Regions from separate parts of the Homo sapiens genome. Here region 1 is linked to region 2. The links come from fine-mapping of genetic effects on gene expression. Tissue or cell type: liver. Region 2 holds a variant in brackets; the other region holds the start of a gene. All regions are shown on one strand. Distances are between the middles of the regions.

What was found. PIP is the estimated chance that this variant, and not a neighbour inherited with it, causes the effect.
Region 1: it holds the start of EPC2, and the variant in region 2 is fine-mapped to the expression of EPC2 in liver (GTEx, PIP above 0.99).

What each region holds. Positions count from the first base shown.
Region 1 is chr2:148,641,619-148,646,771 of GRCh38, reverse strand. EPC2 (enhancer of polycomb 2) reads right to left here and starts at 2,021. Exons shown (of 14, transcript NM_015630.4): 1 at 1,602-2,021. The coding sequence starts at 1,754. RefSeq lists enhancers at 698-847, 1,444-1,948 and silencers at 938-1,027, 1,788-2,367.
Region 2 is chr2:149,620,841-149,625,993 of GRCh38, reverse strand. The region is part of intron 1 of MMADHC-DT (MMADHC divergent transcript); the gene reads right to left. Among named protein-coding and RNA genes, the nearest start is that of MMADHC, 36 kb to the right of the region's middle. The variant G/A (reference allele first, on the strand shown) is at 2,211.

The DNA of each region.
Region 1 (5,153 bases), 980 kb after region 2:
TGGTACTTTTAAGGCCATCTTTCTTTGGATCAAGACCCACAAAATAGCAAAAATATCCAAAGTTGTGCTTATTAGGGTTCAATGTAATTAACTATTGTATATAATATGATTTTATTTTAATTTTCCTTCCCATGGAAAACTGAGTCGTTAGAAACAAATTAAAAAAAAAAGTTCTCACATACAAAAAAAAAAGTTCTCACAGCTCTAAACCTTAGGGATAAATGCTGGGTTTTGATTATAAACATATTTATATATATGCACACACAAATATATATGTGTATGTGCGTGTATATATATCTATTACATATTTGTGTGTGTACACACACAGTTAAGTTCATCCCGATGCTACGGCCATATGCATTTTCTACTGAAAATGTAAGACTTTCAAGTAACTATACATCAAAGAGAAATGTGATTAAATAAGAGCAAAGTAGTATTAACAGGGTAACATAATGAGGTCAGAACTCAACCAGCCAATCGAAGGCATAAAAGCATTTCCTGCAATATTAATAGTCAAAAGAGAAAACCAATCACTGAAACCTCGAGCTTCCTTTTGACAGTCACTGAAGCAAGAGAACCAATCCACACACACCCGAGGTTGACAATAAGGCGGGACTGTAGGTTCATTGAAGAAATTCTTGAGGGTGCAGTTACTATGAACTTCGCACGCAAGTAACACCACTCGAGTCATAAACACTCTCTGTCAAGCCAGATGAAATCCAACCGTCTGCAAAATTTAACCCATCGGAGGAAAAGCAGCAATTTTCCCAAAAGGTGCTGTATTATCAAAATTACAACTGCCAATTTAGATGCACTAGGTCCTCAACTTCTAAGGACCACCTCGCAATGACAATTCTCGAGGACAACGCAACGCCGGCGGCTCGCTTCCGGGCATCCCCGGCTCCTCTCTAACGTTGCGCACGGAGCACGGCCGTCCAGGCGGAGCAGGCAGAGCCCGTCCGCCCCGCGCCCGGCTCGGGTCGGCAGAACTGGCCGGCGGGCGGCCCTCGGACGCTACGACCCGCTCGGTAGTCGTGGCCCCCGCCCTCCCCCGCCGCAGTGCTGCACCGCCTCATCCCGCTGCACCTTCGCGGGCGGGGGAGCCAGGATGATTACATTGCTGGGAGGAAGATGTTTGTTTTGAAAGCACCCTTCCACAGTCATTTCAAAGAGAACTCAATACAAAGCCAAAGTTAAAAGTGGAAAAAATAATAATCTTGCCTAGCCAAATAATACCACGCCATTAATTAGCCCCGCGCCTGAGAGAGGGAGGTGGAAAGGTAAACAGAGACCGTACGCCAAGAGCGGCCAGCGCATCCCCTGCGCCATTCCCGGCCGCCGCTTACGGCAAGGCCCCCTTACGGCAGCGTAAGCAGCGCTGCGAGCTAATCACAACACTGGGACGCAACAACATGGCGGCCGCGGGCGGGCGCTACGCCGGCCGAGAGGGTTTACGCTACTCCGCCGGCGTAGAGTCCCGTGCGTTAGAGCGGCAGCGGCGCCCTCCAGCGAGCGTAAAGCGCTCTGTGAATGGCGAGGCCCGACTGACAAAGGGGAGGGGGGAGGAGGGAAGGGGGGGTAATAAACACTCGAGTCCCTACCGATTCCTCCTCCTTCTCCATCCCGGTGGGCATCTGGGGCACGGCCCGGTTGATGGAGACGCAGTCGTTGAGATCAGGCATGTCCTTGCCGCGGTAGATAGGCAGCGGCTTGGCGGCGTCCAGCGCCCGCGCTCGGAAGGAGAGTTTACTCATTGTCTCCCCGCCTTACAGGAACAGCCCGGGCGGCGGCGGCGGGGCGGGCGGGGAGGGGGGGAGGACTCCCGCCGCCTCCTCCACCTCCTTCCTCAGTGCAGCGCGGCCGGCCCGCTCCTCCTCCTCCTCACTGCCCCCGGCCACAGCATGGGCGCCCACCCCGCCCGAAAACAGCCCCCCGCGCCCGCGGCCGCCTCCACACACTAGATCCGCCGCTCGCCCGCCCGATCCGCTCCCTGCGCCATGGCCAACATGGCGGACATTACCACAGCGGCGGCGAGCGATCCCGGCAGCCCGCGCGAGAGCGCGCCCCCGTCGCGGGAACGCGCCTCGCCCTCTCCCTCCCTCCCTCCTTCCTCTCCCTTCCCCTCCCTCGCCTGCCCACCCACTCTCTCCGCGGCGCTGCCGGCCCGCGGGAGCGTGCTCGGTCTCGGTCCGCTCCGGGGAGAGGGGGCGGGGGCGGCGCCCCTCCGCTCGCTGGCCGGTGCTTTCGCTGTGTGGCAGGTGCCAGGTGCGCAAGTTCGCCCGCGCCCGGGAGCGTGCGCCTCTCCCGCCGCCGCCCGGTCACCCCTCTCGCTGGGTGTCCCGGAGGAAGGCGCCGGGCAAAGACGGCTGCGCCGAGCAGCGCGTGTGTGCAGAAGTCCGGGAGCGGGAAGGGAAAATGTCGACCCGGACCCCACCAGCCATCACCCAAGCCTGTACTTGGACAGCGCTATCCCCAAGGCGCCCTGTGCGCAAGCTAATTCGCATCCTCCGAGGCGCACATCCCCGAGAGGTGCAAGAGGTCTCTCCCATCAGTCCCATCAGTCCGTTCGGAGGACTGGACCGCGCTGCTGGTGCCAGCCCTCTTCTACGCCCTCCCCTCCGTACCTGTCCGAAAGAGCTCTCCAAGGTGCAGCAGCGCGTTCATCCTCGCTTTGCAGTGAGGGTTCATGGTTTGAGGCTGCCAGATGCAACAAGTGAACTTAGGTTCCCTGTCACCCAAACTTCGGTACAGCTGTTTAGTGGATGGTAGGTATTTTTCTGAGTTCAAAAATAGTAGCTTTCCTAAAAGTTCAGCTTCTAAAAATTTAGCCAAGGCAGCACACATTTGCGAAGTAGCAGATGTGTGTCAAATGTGGGGTGCTGTGGAAGACTCGAAGAAATCTGAGAAAAGGTTCCTGCCTCAGAGAGCTTTCACCTTAATGGGATGCCAGGATGGCTGGAAAGATGAGTAACAGAGACGTAAATAGTTGAAGAAAATGACAGCTGGAAAGATAAGTGACAACCGAAAAAAAAGTGTAAATATTTTAAGAAAACAATACAAGAGATGACACAGGCAGTAAGTAGCACATGATTAATTACCAAACGAGATCTAGGCAATAATTGTGAGAGTTCAGAGAAAGGAAAGGAGGCATGACTGCAGCCTAAACTGGTTAGAGAAAGTTCTCAAGAGGAGGGAAAATCAAGGTGACTCAAATAAGTACTAGCTATTGTTGACATCAACCTGGTTTAGCCAAGAGGCTCTTGGTTAGTCTTTAAGCATTACACATTTCTCACAAAACCGTACAAAGAGAGTTTTTAACACATTTTACCATTTTCTAATAATCGATCATACTCTAACTCAGAGAAAGTCAGATGATTTCCTAAAGACCAACAGTGAAAAAATTGATTCCTACTGTCATTTCTATGTGACAATAAAACTATATCTCTTCCTCTATTACGTCCTTCTTCCCCTCCTCCACTTCCTCCCCTCCCCCTTTTTCCTCCTGTTCCTCTTCCCCTTTTCTCTCTGCAGTCTCCTCCTTTGAAGGCAGAATGGTGGATATAGTCTTCATGGTAGTGTCCAAATAGTCTAACCAGTCTGTCGCAGCAAAACTCCGAGTATTGTTTAGTGGGGCTTGAGTGTTTTTCATCCACTTTGTTGTTGGAAGCAATGGAGTTGCTGTGACTCATTTCTTGTAAGCAGTACCTTCCTCAAGCTTATGGGCATGTCCTGCTCTCTAAGTGCTACCCCTGGAACAGTTCCAATCCTCTGGAAGCAAGAACAAGAAGTTCTTGGGAGGGGGTCAGCACTGGGTTCAAGCCTGAAAGGGAAGAAAAAAGCAATAGTTGAAGAAATGAGTCATCCAGAGCTTTCATCTGGATGCCCAGCCCTCCTCAGGTTCAGAAAGGATAGCTTTCTTCTAGTCCCTATGTTTAGTTTTACTGTTTCTCTCAGAAAAGGAAATATCAAGTATGTGTAATATACCATCCATTGTAGTAACATGTTATATATATTATCTCAACTAGTTGAATTCCACTTAATTCTTATTATAATTTTATGAAAAAATATAATTTTACCAATAAGAAAACTGAGCATCAGATAATTTGCCAAATTTCAATTCCAACAACTTGCAGAACTGGGCTCAAATTCAGGTCTGACCTGACTCCAAAACTCTGGTTTTCTCAGTGGTGCTACCCTGCTATCCAAGCTCTTCAGCTTATTGACCAGTCAGCATTCTAAAGCTGCTAATTCAAAATTAGTTACTAAGACCTTCCAACCAACGGCCAAGGGAGCGCATAAGCCAGAGCCTAAAGTTGCAGTAGACCAAGGAGGGCAGGAACAACATCTGTCTGTCAATCACTGTATCCCCAGTTCCATGCCTCACATATGGCAGGCATCTAAAGTATATTTGTTGACTGATATTCCATGAAGAAATTCACTGATACTGACCCCATGCCACTCTAGTTTATAGTTCACATACCTCACTGGCCTGTCACCTGACCTAGCTATTGCTGCCAATATTTGTTCTTACTGTGGCCTACCCTGTTGTCCAGCTTTGTACCTTTGTGCATAGAGATTTTAGAACCAATTAATGTTATTCAAAAACACCTTTTTGAAACCTGGAATTTATAGGAAGGGATTTTTGCTGTTGTGGTTGTTTCTTTGTTGTTCTTTTACTTTGACCATGTAAAAGATTTCTTCCCCAAATCTCCATTTTCTTCTCACCCTGTAGGCAATGATTATAGAGCTGGGAATAAAACCATTTAAGGCAAATAACACAATATACTTTTCAACGGAGACACAGCCTGTGTTTTCTTGGCTTCCAATTCAGTGCCCAAACCGGAATGCCACTGTTCACTTTTGGAAAGTAACTTTTATTTGTATATAAATATTACTTTTCATAAAGTTTATTTCTGATTGATTTGTTGAATACTCATATAATTGTTAGTGCTAAAAGCAAAAAATATCTTCTTATAAAATAAAAAATTCTCTCATGAAATATTTTTATCAAGACCTGCCTCAAATGGGTGTGCAGCCTAATAGCCTATTTTAATTTCCACATACAATGCGCTAAGTATAGTCATTCTAAAATCAGTCCACTTCAGATATGCTCTAGACCAATTCCAAATGACATGCATTTAGCCCAGCAAGCA
Region 2 (5,153 bases):
AATTCAAAACTTTCAGTATTACCCAGTTCAAAATTTCAACTCACTACTTACATGATTTTTCTCTTTAAACAACTTCTGACTTTCATGAACATAGACTCAAATCCAAATAGGGATTATCTCATAAGTTTGTACAAAAATAGGGGAAGTGCTTCGAGATTGCTACAGAAATGTACATCCTACTGGGCATCTAAAAGACAATGTGTGTGAGCTTTAACGAAGCCTTTGAAAGTTTAAAATGCATCAAATTAAAAACCATATCCATTAGAAAAAAATTCTTTCAGCATCTATTCTGTCAATATTTCTGGAAGGAGGTAAAAGGTTTTTATTTAAGATAAGAACACAGTCAGAGATAAATACATTTTCTTTGTAGAGACTAGATATCTCACTGTTGGATATTAATGTTAAGATAAAAGTAAAGCAGATTTGTGCCAGTGGCCATGACAGAAAAGCGAACCACAAAGAAAAAACAATTTTCAAATTGCAAGCAATTGGAATGCTTACAGAGTATCATAAAATCCTGAGGATTTGAAGACAACTTTGAAGACATAAAGTTCAACCACTTATCTATCTAATGTTTAAATCTTCTCCACAGTAAATCGGTCAAATGCTCATTCACCCAGTGTTTAAACATATGCTCTGATAGGGAATGAATTACCTACTGGGGAGCCCATTGCAGTTCTGGGCAGCCGTGATGATTAGTTAGTCCTTCTTGGTATGTTCTACTAAAGTTTGTTTTCTTAGATTTAATATTTATAGATCCTACTTACACGTTGGCATTACATAGGAACTCTTGGCTTGCTAATTCTATACCCTCCCTAACCTCCATTCCTTTCACCTTCCACAGTATGAGCAGAAAAACTAAATCTTCACCTTCCTGGTCTCTGCTTCAGCAAGGGCTTGCCAACATAACCCAGTTCTGGCTAATGAGACATAGGAAAACTCCACATGTGGGTTCTGGGGAAGCTTTTGTCATCCATTCTCTCTTCTTTCTGCCTTGAGTATAAACTTGATTAAGCCAGGATTGCTACTTGCAACCAGGAAGGAGAGTTCACATGTCTAAACCCCTAAATGCTCAGAGCCACCTACCTTCAGACTTAGCACTATTTAGAAAAAGTAAACCCCATCAATCCTGAGGGATTTTAGTCAGGTTTTCTGATGTTTGCATCTGAAGACAAACCTATTTAACACCTATATCATGTGGTCACACAGAAAAGTCAAATACTTATTCCATTTGGTAACACCTCTCGTCTTAATGAAGAGAAAATACTTTACTAAACTGCTACCTGACCCAGGTTGGAGATACTCTTACCTCCAAATGTCAACAACTAGACTATATCTATAATATTATCACAACTACAAAACTATCAGAGTAAACACAAAAGAGAGAATTTAGTTAATGAATGTTGGAGACTCCTGAATTCTGATGTAAGATAATGTAAGCAGTATATTCACTGTTCCTGGTCAATTTCTTCCCTTTCCTAACTTCTCATTCTATTGCTATCTTAGCTCACCTCCAATTTCATTATAAATTAGGATTTCTAGACCCTGGCAAAGCCTGATAGAACAATTTTAATTTGTTTCCTCTTTCTTTTTTTTTTATTTTTCAAGTCTATCAGGATGTCAGTTTTCTAGAAATTACTTGCAGCCATAGTTTAACCTCAAAACAGGGCACTAAATTTCAACTTTCCCAGGATCATCGAATTTGAGCCTCAAGTTGCAATGTCATTTAAAGATAGTGATCTGCTATAATCCTTGTAGACTAATAGCAAAATGCGCCACCAGAAATACGTCTAAAATGTTGACCTATTTTTCTAGCTCTTAATGCATAATACCAATAATGCCATTAGAGAATTTTTATGAGTAGTCTTTTCCAAGAATTAAACGGTGAAACAGAATAAATCTGAATTTATACTGCAATTTATAGCCAGCTCAATCCCTTTTAAAGAAAAGCTGTAATCTTACACCTTCAGAATGATGATTTGATCAATTGCATTTCAGAATCAGTAAGTAGGACTGATTATATATCTCCCATCTACTTCAAAGAAAACTTATAAGGAAGACTGTAGACTAATTAAGAGAATGGACTTTGACATGAGTAAGATCTTTAAATGTGGATTTTGACCATTATGAGCTGACTGATTTAAGGCAAATTACTTTGGTCCATTCATATTCATCATCAGTAAAAATGGAATAAGTATATCTACCTCTTA[G/A]GTTTATTATAGAGATATAATAATTATATTACATATATATCTATATAATATTATAGAGATATAATAATATTGTAGAGATAAACTTAAGTAACACACACATAGTTTAAACATAGAGATAAACTTAAGTAACACACACATAGTTTAAACATTGTCACTAGTGTTCAATAAATGATTAGCTATTACCATTCCTAAAAAAATATTGGTACCCTTTTCTACCTGGTTTCACTGAATTCTTTCACTTGATGTGCTAAGCCAACAACCTTGGTTTCTAATGATTAAAAGCACCGAATATCTAGCATAAGTATAAATTATTTGGACATTTATATAATTTCCTTTTTTATCTCTAAACCATTGCCCATCCTTTTGTAGAAATAGAATCTAGATGATTCAGCAAGAGGTTTTTTAAAAAGACAGAAATGGCAAGGGAGTAGAGGTAGAGCCCCTAATGTTAGACATGTGCTGGAGTTTGTATTGTTCCAGAGCACCCTGAGACAAGGATTTGAGTGCAAATAGCAATTTTAGGAAATGCTGGGTGTAAGGGTAAAGAAGAAGGGAAGGAATACAAAAAAAGAAAAAGGGTGCTTTACCAGTCCCACTAGTATTGTATGCAACTTGAGTTTAATCTCACTGAGGAAACTCTGAGAGCCAGGGAACATACCCCTTCAAATTACTGCATCCAAGAGGCAGGGGAGCTGGGGTATTTATATCTCAGGAGTTGTCCTGAGGTCATTGTTGAAAGCTGCTCCCAGGGTTTGTTAATTCCCAGGCACTTCTGGCTCACTGATCATGGATCATAGGCAAAGCTGTTTTCTGTGCTTCTGCTGAAAAAGAAATGAGATACTGAGATGAAAATACTGGGAGTTGGAAGTCAGGGAAAAGCCCACTGGATGATGACAGAAAGGGAGAAAGGGGACACTGATGGCACGTGCTTCAGGGCACTGAGGACTAAATGAAACCAGAAGAACAGGAGCTAAAACCAAGTTATGGATTGTGACAGGGTAAATCCCAGGGTAAAAATATTACAGAGTAATATTTCAGGGTAAAAAAAATTACAGGGTAGTTTTTTTACAGGATAAAAAATCTCAGGGTAAATCCCAGGGTAAAAAGAATCTGAGCAAGGGAAGTGAAAGGCTGAAATTTTTGTGAAATGAAAAAGCTGGCAGCCCAGAAGAAAGCCAGAATTTTGGCTTGGAGGATGTGGTACACATCTCACACCAAACACTTTCATTTTGGTGTGCCCTAGCAGGAAGCTCATAGTGCTATTGGTCCTTCTCCCATGGCACATGGGCAGCTCTGGGCCTATAGGCGCACCTTTTAATCTGACTGGCTATTGTTGAACATGCAGCACTTCTCAAAGCACATCCATGCAGTAATGGTTCAATACATGCAAATCAATAAACATGATATATGATCAACAGAATCAAGGACAAAATCCATATGATAATTTCAACAGATGCTGAAAAAGCATTCAATAAAATTCAGCACCCCTTCATGATAAAAACTCTCAACAAACTGGATTAGAAGTAACATACATCAACATGATAAAGGCCATACATAACAAGCCTATCCCAAACACACTTTTCAGACACACTTTGGAAGGAGGGGTCCAATTTTGAACAACTTCTCAGGCCTAATCTTTCCTCTCCAAGGAAAATTCAGGTATTTCCAGACTCCACAAGTCCTTTGTACCCAGAACTTTGCTCATGAGCATGACATTTTCTGCACTCTCCTGGCTTTCTGCACAGAATTGGTTGGGTGCCATCCTCCTCTGCAGCAGAGAGCCAGAGAGAAACCTGTGGCTACGGGCTGAGGCCCAGATTCTAGGCTGAAGTAGACTGAAAATTGTGAGAGAACTTGCAATACTTGACCTCTCAGTTCCTGACTCCTTCAGCAAACAATTATTAAGCATCTACTTTTTTTTCATTTATATCTCTAGCAGAGTTACAGGGGCAAGCAGGCCATCCCAAAAACCCCTCTAATACGCTCTGCCAGTTAGTCCATCTGTGCTAAGGAGGCTAAAGTTGTAGAATAGATTGTGATGATTAGATTGTCTCTTATTTTCTGACGACTGAATGCCAAAATCCATGTCCATCCCACCCTTGCTCTTCTTCTGACCAGCTCATCCCAGGGGATGCCTCAGTTAAGTCCATCTTTGAGGCTAGAGACATGTACCCCTGGCAGCAAACATCAGTGGGATCCTTGTCAAACACAATGGTAGTCATTGTCATTAGAGGGGCTTGCAGAACATTTTCAAAGAGCAATATTTTTTGTTGTTAGGCTTCTTGCAGTTGCAATTATAATTAGGGAATTTTAAGAATTTAGGACTTTTTCAGATAAAAATTACAGTATTTTGTTTATACAGAACAACTTTTCACTAGGAATCACATCATTCGTTTTATTGATTTTTTTCATTTTGTATAAAGCCCTGTGGATTTAACATGTTAGAATAAAGATATCTCTGCAGAAGGCAATTCTCATTTTTTAAAAATGGCTGTTGATCAATGTGGAGTTATCCTTACAGATTAATGTAAAAAAGAAACATGTTTAAAAGGCTATTTGAAATTAACTTGGGGACATTTTGAAAGAAAAAATCAATTAAATAATGTGTTTCTAGATCCTTCCTTAAAATATATGAACTTTCCATTTTGCATAGTGACATTTTTTTCAGATACATAGAGATATGAATGAACATCCTTAGAAACAAAACTGAGTCTTTATTTCTTTGGGAGTATCATTACCCTTGAAACAGGATGATAAAGCTGAGAATAGTACCATAAACTCAACTATAAATAACCCACACTAACAAAGGAAAATGCTGGTTGAACGACTTTTTACACACAACAAAAAGCAATAATTTACAGACATTTCCCAGTGAAAACATGGAAGAAGTAAGAAAGAAAAGAGAAATAAATTAGGATGCTAAATGTTGCCTTCACTGTGTCA